Linked DNA regions of Homo sapiens. The protein of the gene in region 3 interacts with the protein of the main gene of each other region in a pairwise test. Each region holds a gene or a part of one and is shown on either strand. Other genes may lie near its edges.

Region 1 (3,500 bases), on a different chromosome or scaffold from region 3:
TGGCGCTATCTCGGCTCACTGCAAGCTCCCTCTTAAGGGTTCATGCCATTCTCCTGCCTCAGCCTCCCGAGTAGCTGGGACTACAGGCGCCTGCCATCACACCTGGCTAATTTTTTGTATTTTTAGTAGAGATGGGGTTTCACCGTGTTAGCCAGGATGATCTGGATCTCCTGACCTCGTGATCTGCCCGCCTCGGCCTCCCAAAGTGCTGGGATTACAGGCATGAGCCACCACACCCGGCGTTTTCTACATTTTTACATAACATTTCTGCCATCTTCAAACATCAGTTCTTCCATCTCTTCCTCAACTATTCCTATCTACCATGCATGTGGACATTCTCAAACAACCATTAATGCTGTTTGGTAAGATTTACTGATCTCTATTAATATTATCTTGACTTTGCTTACAGAAAAAAAAGCTAGCTCTAAGAAGTATATGGAAAAAGATGCAAGGAAAGATGCTTACGGGAACAAGAGTCAAAAATAGACTACTGATAAATTTCCTCATCTTTCAACTACTGAAAACATCTCTATAAACAAATATGAAATAATACTGAAAAACTCAAACAGTATCAAAATAAATCAAAGCTATCAATTACAAAAAGGGGGAAAGAATGCAATGTTAATTGAAGGACCATCTGCTTCAGATTTTTGTCTTTTTTTGAAAGAACTACCCAAGAAATCCAGTAATTAAAACAGGTTTCATACTGATCCTGCAACTAAAATGGTGACTATATATTGCAGTTACATTAGCATTCTTTCTTCCTTATCACCATCCTGTCCATGGAGTTATTTGCTCAAGGAAACTTCACAAAGAACAAAAACAAGCCATAAACACAATAGGATCCTGGATTCTAAGTGAGAGAAAAATGAGAGTGTGAAAGAAATCATTTCTTCCACTGGACCACTGTTCAACTGTTATTAAAAACACTGTGTTCCATTCTAGTGTTTAAAGAGAAATATGGAGAAAAAGAAGACAGTCCAAAAAGCCACAAAATGCTGGGCACGGTAACTCACGCCTGTAATCCCAGCACTTTGGGAGGCCAAGGTGGGCAGATCATTTGAGGTCAGGAGTTTGAGACCAGCCTGGCTAACATGGTGAAACCCCGTCTCTACTAAAAATACAAAAAAATTAGCCAGCCGTGGTGGTGCATGCCTGTAGTCCCAGCTACTCGGGAGGCCGAGGCAGGAGAATCGCTTAAACTTGGGAGGCAGAGGTTGCAGTGAGCCAAGATCATGCCACTGCACTCCAGCCTGGGCAACACAGTGAGATTCTGTCTCAAAAAAAAAAAAAAAAAAAGCCACAAAAAATAATGGCTGTGATTAGTAAATGGAGTCTACAGAGATGGTGTGAAATACCAACCTGAACATGAAAAAAGTAATATCAAGGGGAACCTACACTAGCAATTCTACATTTCTTAAGGGAAAAAAGAAAGGCTTTTCATTTGGGCACATAGACACATATACATTCACTTCTCCTTCACTTCCCAGTATTCCAAGGAATGTCTAAAGGCTTCCGTGTGTTAGATCCTAGCTAGTGCGAGGAACAGAGTGGAACAGTAGATGCATTTCGTGCTGCCTGAAGACAAGTAGAGAGCAATGAACAACTAGCGAATGACTGCAAATGTGCAATGCAGCTATGAGGAAAAGGAGCCAAGTGGTGAGACATGCAGCAAGGTGGGAAGGGGAGTCTACCCTAGGTAAGGAGCCAAGGAACATCTGCAAGGAGGGAAAGGCGTCTAGCCTGGGCAATAAGGAGCCAGCCATGCCAAAAAGGAAGTGCAGCCTACTGGGCCAGGGGAAGAGCACAGTGAGAAAGCGCAAGGGACTTGGCCTGCTCAAGGAATCAGAAGATCAGTGGGGGTGGGGGTAGCAAGCCAAGGGAGACCAAAGGGGTGGGAAGAGCCAGATCACACAGGTAAGGCCCAGAAAGGCCCACGTCCTTCATCTCAGTAAGACCTGCTGGACAAGAGGAGTTGAGAAATTCCACTCATCTCTTCACCTGTTTATTTTACACAGCCCATAGCAGGGACTTTGGGAATCTAAAGATGGTTCCTGCCATCAAGAACTTACTTGCATGTAATTACAACTGGATTAAAAGCATACATATATACCAAAAAAAAAACCAAACAAACAAAAAAAAACAACCAGGTTAAAAAAGCTTACTGTCTGAGAAGATAAAATATTTGCATGGGAATCACCTAGCCATCAACTAATAATAAAGGATCTTGGAGATTAGCTCTTCGGTACAAATGAAACGTAAAGCGATTGCCTGCATCATAAAGCTAGTTAGGAGCAGAACTCAGCTCAGGTTCTGACTTCTAGACTAGTCTTTAATTCATGACATTCCATTTCAGACAACAACACAGGCACCAAAGGGCAACAGGTGAACAAGTACCAAAGGATGGTACAAGCATGTTTTATGGGTTCACAGAAGCTGGTAAGCAGGAGATGAGGCTCCAAGGAATAGACAGGTAGAGCCAAGTCTGGGTGACAGACAGACAGGGGAGGAGCATTTGAGAGGGCTGGGCCTGGTGAAGGAACATCATGCGGAGACAGCTGGGCCCAGAGTTAGTTCTCACTCTCCCACCTCCTAAACCTTGGTTTTCTCCCCTGTGAAATGGAAACTATAGTACCTGCCTCAGTGTTGTGTGCATTAAGTGTTAGTGTATGTAAAGAACCTAATATGACACATAGCAGATACTCCATAAATGCTGGTATAGATATCCATACATCTCCAAACCCATTATACAATGAAAATGCAACAGAAGACTGAGAGGGTAGGGAAAGGAGGAGTCCCTGTGGCTACGGCTGAGGATCTTTTAAAGTGTGAGGTAAGTTAAAACAGTAAGAGGCAGTACTAGCATGATGCCTGACCATGCCCAGCCCCAGCTGGCAGGGGCTCACTGAAGATCTGGGTAGAGCCAGAACTGTCATGGGACCAGAAGTGAGCTTTCCTCATGGAGACCCTGCCTGGAATTTACAGCAAACTACAAGTTTGTATCCTGAAACAAAATAAAGAGCTAGTCTCACAAAGGATCAAAGCTATGAAGGTCACCCTGCTCTAGCTACACACTGAACTGTTAACACACTTACCGGTTTAGGGATAAAGTGGAAGTTTGAGAGGGCATCCAATTTTAAGAAGAGGGAATCCATCATCTTCTGAATTTCTACATGTTCTGGATTTTCTTCTTCTGCTGTTTTTTGCTTAGGAAATAAGTTCAACAATGTCAAACTAAGCGACTTGATATATATCACAGGACAAAACACTAAAGGTCAATGAGAGTATTTCTAACTTCTCATCACTAAAGCTTCAGCTACAAAGAAACATTCCAAAAGCAAAATTAAAAGCAGCAGTACCATGAGGGTTCCAGCACCTACCAGAGATGTGATGTGCATTTTAGGAGCTACAGTAACCATTACCTCTAATACTCAGAACTTAAAAATTTAATTACCTTGGTATTTACTTCTGTCAAAAACTAAGCTATTCCTAAGATGGCT
Region 2 (3,500 bases), on a different chromosome or scaffold from region 3:
ACCTGAGCCACTAAAAGGCAGGGTCCACCTGCCTGGGGTGCAGGGGGAGGACTGGAGTGAAGCCTCTGAGTCATTTCCATGTGCCAAGCTCTCAGGAAGAAGGGAAGGTGAGGGCGTTCTTTCAGGGAGATGTGGGACCCACAGCTGAGGAGGGCGATGGGTTAACCGATCAGCATAGGAGCAGCAAGAGGGGCCTCTGCAAGCTCAGAATCATGACAAATCTTCATGCCGAGATAAGACGTCTCAGATCACTGAGCAATTTCATACTCACAATCGCATTTGAGAAATTACTAAATGGAATCTTTTGGGGCATATCATGGCATTGTGGTTATGGTTTTTAAGTAGTGCTTATCTCTTAGAGATACGGTGTAGCGAAATCTTGAAGCGTGAACTGACATGGTGCCTGGGAACAATTTTGGATGTCTGCTCCAAAATAACTGGTGGAAGGTGGAGTATAGAGGAAAGAAGACTGGCCCTAAGATGATGATTGTTGAAGCTGGTAATGGGTACCTTGGGCAGGGGGGGCCATTATTATTATTATTGCTACCTTTATGTGCATTTAAAATTTCCCATGATAAAAGGGAGAAGAAGCAAAAAAAATTGGGAAAAGTGATCAGTGTGTTTGAAGCAAATGGCAGACAGAAGAGACAGGTTTAAATCGTTTGCCTCAAGACCCGAGCAACCCAGGTAGGACTGATTCCCATTTTAGAAGGCACTGTTGTTGGAGGATCTTGCTCAGCTGAGAGTGAGGAGCAGGGACAGATGAGCTGCTTTCCCAGGGCTCCCAGGATTTCCACATTGCTGAGCCTGCCCCTTTCTGGCTCTCCACCTGCCTGAGGCACATACCTTCAACAGCTGCTTCTGCTCAGAAGAGAAGTCCAGGCAGCAAGAGAAGAGAGAAGAGGTGGGTCAGTTTCGAACCAGGCTGTCTTTGATCCAAATGAGTACACACGTTTACGCTTACCTTCCTGCTCCCTGAGAGCAACAGGAAACACTGTCAGTAGCTCGCACACAAGCACATGCAAACACACACGCCTGCACACACATGCACACACTGGCCTTTCCCCAAAGATAATCCCCCTTTCTTTTCCCTTGTTGCCTAGTGGAGTCCACGCTGCCCTGCCCACCTTGCAATGACACCCACTAGCCTGGCCTGCCGTTCTCATGCAGGGCTGCCTCCTACCATCCTCCGCAAGCCTCCGCCCCAGCCAGCTTGGTCTCACCAGCGTTCTGCTCACTTACTCTTTCCATCTTTGCCCAAGCTGTACCCCTTTCTAGAAAGTCCTGCCCTCTCCCAAATCTCTTATCTTTCCAAATTCTACACAGGTAAGACCTGCCTTCTCCACACAGCCCCCTGACTATTCCAGCCCCTGATCTCCCTCTCCTCAGAACTCCTACACTACCAACAGCCCGCCCTCCACACCAGGCCCCCAGTTGCTAATTTCTTCTCCCAGTTTATGTCTTAACATCTCAACAAGAGTAAGTTCTGTGAGGGCAGTAGCCGTGCCTATACCTCTGTCTCCTCCCTGGTGACCACTATCCTCTGTAGTTATTGGATTGGCTGTGTCCCACCCCCTGGTTTCCCTCTGGGATAGGACTGTGGGCAGGGCACTGTCATGAGAGAGTAGGGATCCAAGACAGGGTGATAACACTGGGTTCTGAGCTGGGGTTTGGGGGGCATAATCAGCTCTGTGCCTCTGGAGAGTCACTGAACCTTCCTCAGTCAGTTTCAGGAGACCCAACATCTCAGCTTCTCTGTTCATGGCCCCTAGCCAAGACTGGCCAAGGACACTGATGACCCTGGAGCTGAACCTCTGTGCTTCCCGAAGTCTCTCGGCCTGTGCTCTGCCTGGGATCTACAACCCAGGGGTACAGGAGTGGAAAGGAAATGGCTATATCTCTCCTCGGGGTGCCCAAAACACACACAGCTACTTCTACCCAGAATCCGAGGGACAGCTGGGAGGCTCCTGGACCAGGTGTCAGGGCAGCGGCGGGAGAGGACCCCACTCAGGCAAGATGCTCCAGATACTCACTCCTCCTCGTACTCTTCCACCACCTCTTCTATGTCAGACATGGTCTCTGCTCTCCCTCCAAAAGGAGAAAAAAGTCAGTGCAGGTACAAAGGGAAGCCTGCCTTCCTCAGAAGAGCTCTGGCCCCCGTTGTACAGAGATCAGCGAGGCCTAGGGTGAATCTAGTTCCACCCCTCATGAGCTGTGTGACCTGCAACAAAAAGCCTGTTTTCTCCCCTGCTGGGGGAGATAGTGACACCCACATGGCAGCAAGGCCACCTGCTGATGTCCACTTCGTTCCTTGCCCCTGAACAGGCAATACTGCCTGGGATGCTGCATTTCCATTTGTGACACTCAAGACAATGTCTGCAGTTTCTCAACCTTTCCATCCACTCTGCCCACCCCCACTCCACAGGATCTGTTCAGCACTGTACAAATCTTCACTGCACAAAGCCTCACTGCAGCCTCAACCTTCTGGGCTCAAGCGATTCTCCCACCTCAGCCTCCTGAGTTGCTGGGACTATAGTTGTGCACCACCATGCCCGACTAATTTTTGTATTTTTAGTAAAGCTGGGATTTTGCCACATTGCCCAGGCTGTTTCGAACTCCCAGGCTCAAGGGATCCTCCTGCCTCAGCCTCTCGAAGTGCTGAGATTACAGGCGTGAGCCACCACACCCATTCCATGTGTGCTGGACAAAAGTGAGACCTGGACAAAAGGTCTTTGGGCACCCCAAGAGACTGGCCTGGACAAATGAGTGAGAACTTGTCTCTAAATAAATAAATCAAAGCACACAGCGGGGATCCTTGTGGTTTGGGATCTTTTCAGTATGTAGACTGTGGTGATGGATACGTGAACCTCCACAGGTTAAAGTTGTTTAGAGTTTCACATACACATGGTGCAATTGTGGGCAAATCTGAATAAGATCATAGATTGATTGTATTGATGTCCAATCTTGGTTTTGATATAGTACTAATTTTGCAAATGTTGCCCTCGGGAGAAACTAGGCACCGTGTGTAAACGCTCGTTATTAAAGACAACTGTGTACTAGTCTTTAATTATGTCAATGAAAATTCCGATTAAAAAATGTTCCCCCAGGGAACTCATTCTGAGATCATCTTCTCACTGCACTGGGAACAGATAATCTAGATTCAGATCCTCTTCCATTAGCTTGCCGAGGGTGTTTAGGCGAGTCTTTTTAACATCTCCAAACCTCAGTCCTTTCTCTGTCTCATGGAGATAAAGTGTACACATCCTGGCTACTCAGGGTCTTTACGAGGCTCCAGTTGACATTAACAAAAGGGGAAGGCATTAGGCAACATCAGGTGTTACAATGAGCATGTAATCACAGGGAGGGGGCAGAGAGCAAGCACTTGAGTGTGAGACTAATCTCGTTTTGAATGCTGGCTCCAGCATGCGTTTGCCTGCGACCTTGGCAAGGTCACTTAACCTCCCCACATCTCAGCTCTCTTTGCTGTGAAATTACTGCTC
Region 3 (3,500 bases):
GGTGTCTACCTATGTTGCCCAGGCTGGCCTCAAACTCCTGGGCTCAACCTCAGCCTCCCTAAGAAGCTAAAACTATAGGCACCACCATACTGGCTCTAAAACAATTCCTTTAAAATGCAGGAGATGGAGGAGATTAAGCCTAAACCATAAATTTGCTTTGTGTTTTTTTTTGATATCCTATATGGTCTTTCCCACTCATAGTATGCATAAAATTAAGATGTTATCTTTCCTGTAGAGAAATGAAATTCTCCTAACACTCTCAACTTTATCTGGATATTGTCAGAATATCAACACACAAAATATAAGTCTAATAAAGATTGAAATGCAGTTTTAGCAAGGCATTGTTTAGTAATAAAAAGCTATGAGATACACTAGGAGTCACTATTTTCCTGTTTCCTAGATATTAGAATCCATTTAGTACTAAAAGCACAGTTTACTTCTACCAAGACAGTTTTCTCCATTATTTTCCCAACTTCTCAATATTTAAAATACAAGTCCATGAGGTTGGAGTTACCTATCATTATTAAATATTACCTATCATTATTAGAAATACATGTTGTTGTTTCTTTTTAAAGGAGTCCAGATCTTGCTCTGTCACTCAGGCTAGAGTGCAGTGGCACATCATAGCTCACTGCAGCCCCAAACTCCTGGGCTCAAGTAATCCTCCTGCCTCAGCCTTCCAAGTAGCTACAGGTGCACACCACCACACCTCACTGATTAGAAATACTTTAATTATCATTAACTGGGAAAAAAATACCCACAAGTTGTCAGGATGCACTTCTATGCATTTCAGATTTCTACCTTTCCACATTTATATTAATGGAAGTAAAAGGTCTGATAAATTCTCAGCTGAAAACATCTGATACGTGAAAACAACTTCCTAACAAAGAAATAAAATTAACTGGGTTGGTCACCTGGATAGAGTACTAGATGAAACAAGACCAAAGTCACAGGGCCAGTGAACTTCACAGGAAAAATAAACTCCTTCCATAGTAACAGAATACTCATCAAATCAGATGGCACTGATCCCATAGTAAACCAGGTAAAAGAGCCTGAGTCAGGTGACACAAAGCCTTAAGTTACTAGAGGACAATTCCACAAGAACAATACTAAATAGCAATGGCAGTGCTATCTTTGAAGGACAAGGCATCATTAATAAAATGTAAAACCTCCCATAGTAAAAATTACAAGTCTTTTCATTACAATCACCAAATAGGAGACTTGGGTAAATTTTTAGACAGGGTTATTTGTGAGGCCCAAGGAGAAAAGTCCCATCACTGAAAAACAGCTCCACTGGATGGACATTCTAGAATGTGTTCAATCTATACCCACTGTCCATTCCTAGAACAAGATCAATAACATCGGTACTTTACATACACACACACACACACAAAAAGGCCGGGCAGTGGCTCACACCTGTAATCCCAGCACTTTGGGAGGCCGAGGCGGGTGGATCACCTGAGGTCAAGAGTTCAAGACAGCCTGGCCAATGTGGTGAAACTCCGTCTCTACTAAAAATACAAAAAATTAGCTGGGCATGGTGACAGGTGCCTGTAATCCCAGCTACTCAGGAGGCTGAGGCAGGAGAATCACCTGAACCCCTGAGGCGGAGGTTGCAGTGAGCCGAGCTCACACCATTGCACACTCCAGCCTGGGCAACGAAAGCAAAACTCCATCTCTCAAAAAAAAAAAAAAAAAAAGGCTTAACTCTTAGGGGTGAGAAATTAAGACTCTATAATTGAATGTTTCTGTGTTAAACCATGCTAAAAAGTGAGTCACATGAAGTCATTTTCGGTCAACACTAAATAATGTTTCCAAAGTTCAGAATATGGACTGGTAAATTCTGTCTTTATTTCCCAATCAAGCAACCTTTATCCTTTCCCCTTTTCTAGACAGAAAACCCAACTAGTTTTTTTTAGCACAGCTGCTTGAAATAACATATATAATCAACATGTTTGTGGTAAGGCCAAATAATTCAGGCCATCCTAAAAATGTACCAAAACCAGGAAAAAAAAAAAAACAGAAAAATGTGATTGCCACATTCAACCAGAATAATTGATTGACTATATGACTAATAGATATTACACTAGAACATAACAAATATTCCCAAGATCCAAGTATATTTAAATTAAAATGGCTCAGTACCCTAATTTCTAATAGTTTTGTCATACTACAAATGATTCACCTTTGCTTCAATATGTACTATATTACATTAAAACTGCAGAATTGAAAAGCATATGCTTGCTAAGCCAGTCAGTGACACAAGCTATCTTGTTAATTACAAATAGAATTGTAAGATCTAATACTCACTTTTTATTCCAACCACTGTAATGTATGAAGTATTTCACTTGTTTGTCCTTTATGGCAACCTTTACACACTGAAATTCAAAAAAAAAATAATAATTCACTTAGAAATTTTTTAAAGACACTACCTTTTCAAATCATCCTTCAAAGACACTCTACACAAGCTTTATGGTGGCCTAAACAGAATGACTAAGAACACTAAGCTTGTAGAATACTCAAGTTACAAAACTGAAGATTAGTCACAAAAGGTCCAACAAAGCTGAGAACCACAAGCATAAAAGGTCACCTTAAATCTTTAATCAATGGATTACAAAAGCTATCCAAGGACAGCTAATGAAAGCTATGCTTGTGTCTTCTCAGTCTAATCAGCCAGGAGCTATATTTATTTCAAAAGCAAATTCCTCTAAAGCAAAGTCTTTAAACTATATTATAAAAAAACTTCATTAGCTTATGAAAGGCAGTAAATGGACCTGTTTCTGAAAAGTTAGTTTAAACAACTTGTAAAGCAATGAATTAAAAATATTTCACTTTTCTTAAAAGCAGCCAGACAAAAGGAATTACTAGAGGCAAGTCATTAACTATGACAAGTGATGACTATCTGGTTTTGGATTTAAAAGTCTTTAAGAGAAAACCAAAATAACCACAACAGTTTAATTTGTTTCAATAGCTTCAATTCGAAAATTGTTCACCAGAGTGTCAGGTGCCAGGAGAAAAATCAGCCAGTTTAGTAGAGTTTGCCAAACGTTGATACAACAATAACAACATTCAGGGATAAAAACGATTAACAGGACATAATTTTTTTTTTTTTTTTTGGTAGAGACAGTCTTGCTATCTTGCCCAGACTGATCTCAAACTCCTGACCTCAAGTGATCCTCCTGCTTTGGCTCCCCAAAGCCCTGGGATTACAGGCTTGTACGTCACAGCCCCTGGCCATGAGTCGTAATTTAGCACTTACAAACATTATATCATTAAGATGTATGTACGTATACATATACTTAGAAATTCCTGACCATCTCCATACATCCAAATTCAGTCATTTTAGGATTTCTTTTTTAAGAGACAGTCTCCCAAGGGGCAATGGCTCACACCTCTAATCCCAACACTTTGGGAGGCCGAGGCAGGTGGATCACGAGGTCAGGAGTTCAAGACCAGCCTGGTCAACATGGTGAAACCCCGTCTCTACTAAAACTACAAAA
Region 4 (2,917 bases), on a different chromosome or scaffold from region 3:
GGCATAGGACAACTCTACAACTCCAGTTTGGACAAAGAGAGACTGGATGAGAAATGAAGAAACAAACTCCCGGTGGTGGTAAGCCTGGGGTGGGTCCAGAGAGTGGGAAATGGGGATGAACAACAGAGTCAAGACACTTTGAAGGAAGTAATTTTTTCTTTTTTTTTTTTTGTGACAGGGTCTCACACTCTGTCACCCAGGCTGGAGTGCAGTGGCACGATCTCAGCTCACTGCAACCTCTGCCTCCCAGGCTCAATTTTCCCACATTAGCTTCCCAAGTAGCTGGGACCACAGGTGTGCACCACCACGCCCAGTTAATTTTGTATTTTTTGTAGAGACAGAGTTTGGCCATATCTCAAACTCTTGACCTCAGGTGATCCACCTATCTTGGCCTCCCAAAGTGCTGGGATTAGAGGCATAAGCCACCAAGCCCAGCCCCAGAAATGATTTTCTAAAAGGCATTGAAAATTACCTTGCAAGACAAGAAAACCAGCCTCATGTTCATTTTGAAAAAGCTATTTACTTTTTTTCCAAATATTATCCCAAATAGGTGTTTTACAGATAAGGGTCAATACGAAGTCAAACATTCTACAGAAGAAAATCGTTTTTACAGACATTAAGAATAATTTTAACAGAAGAAAAAGCTCACATCTATCTAGATGTGGCTATGTTCCATGGGAAAAATTTCAGCATCCAAAGTGCAAAGAAAAAATGACTGTAGCTTTTCTTACCACAAAATATTGACAATCTTCCCTTATAGCCTACTCTTTATTGTTAGTTGGGATGCCAAAGGATGATATATTGACCTTTAGAAGTTGGGCTCCACTGGACAAGGTTGGGGGTATGGGGGCCAAGCATCAGAATGAATTCAATTTTAAAAGAAAAACTGGCTTTGACCCCAAATGAACCCAAAGTTCAGCCAGCAGCACATCAGAGATAAATACGAGTTGTACTTTCACATTTACAAGGTTGTGCCACTCAACACTATTAAAGACCTAATCATCCAAATCAAAGCTACGCATACTCCCATCACTAGTTCTGTCCTCAATGCATCCCATTTTTATGAAAGCTCCATATTATAGCTCAGTTCATAATGGGGAATGAGAACTTCTGGTTCTTAGAAGGAGGCATCCTAAATCCTCTGGTCTAATCCTTTCTTTGCCCTGCCCTCCCACTTCCCACCCTGAGACAAGCTAATCTTATCAGATAGGTAGGGTTTCTGTCATTGTCTCACGGAAATCAGTTCTAAATGAAACTAGAGAAAGATCATTCTATGAGCAGCATTTGGCTTTAAGCCAAAGGAACAATAACCCCCTTCCCCAAAAAGAATCACAACCAATTCCATACTAACCCTTCTACCCCTGGAAAGATGTCTCATCTAAAAGCTCCCAACAATGACCAGCACAAAGTGCTGATATTATGTGACTTGAGGAGAAGGAAGGGGAGATATATATAGTTTTAATAAAACCCTCATGCACAATTAAACTTGAGTAAAAGCCTGGAGAATGCTAAAAGTAGTAATGAGTACAGGAGGCTGCAGAGCAGAGTACAGATGTGTCCTTTCTTATAGTCAGTCAATGCTGGGAAGTAACAGGCAGATGTGACTTCACTTGAGCATTGGAGAAGCAAAAAAGTTGCCTTGTCGTCCTAGGTTAGTGGCAGACTTGCTTTTGCTCCCAAATCTACAATAAAAAGAGAATGAACTGGAAAAATATTCTATAAAAAATGGTTGAATAAACAACTATAATATTACTTGATATAACCCATTATAAGTAGGAAACCCTAGACAACTATTTTGCAATAGTTGCTTAAGTATTCTTAGTCACCAACAACGAGAGAGGGGAAATAGTAAAGACTTTCAGAACCTTTTTAAAGAAGGAATCCTTATAGCCCCACGTTCCCTTTTAAAGTCTAGTTGCTAGCTAAAATCGAATGCAATTTTTCTTTCAATAAGCTTCAATATAATAAGAAGTCTAAGAAAGTAGTTGTTTTTTATTTCCTAGGAAGGCCAATTCTGCATACCTAGGAGTGTTCTTGGTGAGGGTGGAACGGACTCTCTGTGACAGGGAACTAGATGAAGGAGTCTTGAGAAGCTGATGTTCAGGAGTGGTCACAGGTCCCAGTAAACTCACTTCAAAGTTCAGACATATTTTTAAGAGAGGTGGGAAAAAAGAAGGCATCTTTTTAGATGGCTAGTTTTAAGCTGATTACCCTCTGAAGCACTTAAGAGCTAAGGTTAGACATCTAGCAAAGTCCCAGAGATCATTTTTGTCATCATTCTGTAACACACTAGTGTATCTTTTGAACTCAATGAATAGCTGACACGTCCTGATTTAGGCCATTCTCTAACTCCACACTTCACAAATCTAACATCTAAACATCTGACTTTTAGCTATACTAGAAGAAGCAATATGCTCCCTTAGAAGGAACTTGCAATAATGAAAGAATGGGTCTCCAATGCCAGTGAGACTGGAGTGAAACCAGCCTATTCATATAAAATTGTTGGTTAGCAATATAAATTGGCAAAAGCCTATAAGAAATTTAATAAATCAAGTTGGTAAAACATACCAAGACACATAAAAATGTTCAAGCCATTTAATTCAGTGATCCCACTCTTAGGAATTTATCATTAAGAGAAATGCTATATTGACTATAGCATTACTTGTAATTATGAAAAATTGAAAAATAATGTTAATACCTACTAGAACATTTAAGTAAATGATAAATAAGATTATACATGAGAAAAAGTTCTCACAACATGCTAAGTGAAATAAGAATGAATTATATTTAAACTATTATATATATATATATATATATATTTTTTTTTTTTTTTTTTTTTTTTTTTTAGACAGAGTCTCACTCTGTCACCAGGCTGGAGTGCAGTGGCGGGATCTCAGCTCACTGCAAATTCCGCCTC

Evidence for each region.
Region 1: the proteins of MORF4L1 (region 3) and MPHOSPH10 interact in binary tests that used the Homo sapiens proteins (3 or more experiments, as listed by UniProt).
Region 2: the proteins of MORF4L1 (region 3) and TNNT2 interact in binary tests that used the Homo sapiens proteins (3 or more experiments, as listed by UniProt).
Region 4: the proteins of MORF4L1 (region 3) and RACGAP1 interact in binary tests that used the Homo sapiens proteins (3 or more experiments, as listed by UniProt).

What each region holds. Positions count from the first base shown.
Region 1 is NC_000002.12:71,144,134-71,147,633, reverse strand, and holds part of MPHOSPH10 (U3 small nucleolar ribonucleoprotein protein MPP10), read right to left. Parts: intron 3,207-3,500; coding exon 3,096-3,206; intron 1-3,095. UniProt on the Homo sapiens protein: Component of the 60-80S U3 small nucleolar ribonucleoprotein (U3 snoRNP). Required for the early cleavages during pre-18S ribosomal RNA processing. Part of the small subunit (SSU) processome, first precursor of the small eukaryotic ribosomal subunit.
Region 2 is NC_000001.11:201,371,181-201,374,680, forward strand, and holds part of TNNT2 (troponin T, cardiac muscle), read right to left. Parts: intron 2,222-3,500; exon of another isoform or gene 2,089-2,221; 5' UTR 2,075-2,088; coding exon 2,034-2,074; exon of another isoform or gene 1,939-2,033; intron 976-1,938; coding exon 965-975; intron 862-964; coding exon 847-861; intron 1-846. UniProt on the Homo sapiens protein: Troponin T is the tropomyosin-binding subunit of troponin, the thin filament regulatory complex which confers calcium-sensitivity to striated muscle actomyosin ATPase activity.
Region 3 is NC_000015.10:78,879,390-78,882,889, reverse strand, and holds part of MORF4L1 (mortality factor 4-like protein 1), read right to left. Parts: intron 2,379-3,500; coding exon 2,311-2,378; intron 1-2,310. UniProt on the Homo sapiens protein: Component of the NuA4 histone acetyltransferase (HAT) complex which is involved in transcriptional activation of select genes principally by acetylation of nucleosomal histones H4 and H2A.
Region 4 is NC_000012.12:49,988,662-49,991,578, forward strand, and holds the end of RACGAP1 (rac GTPase-activating protein 1), read right to left. Parts: intron 2,132-2,917; coding exon 2,023-2,131; intron 1,683-2,022; coding exon 1,607-1,682; 3' UTR 501-1,606; downstream 1-500.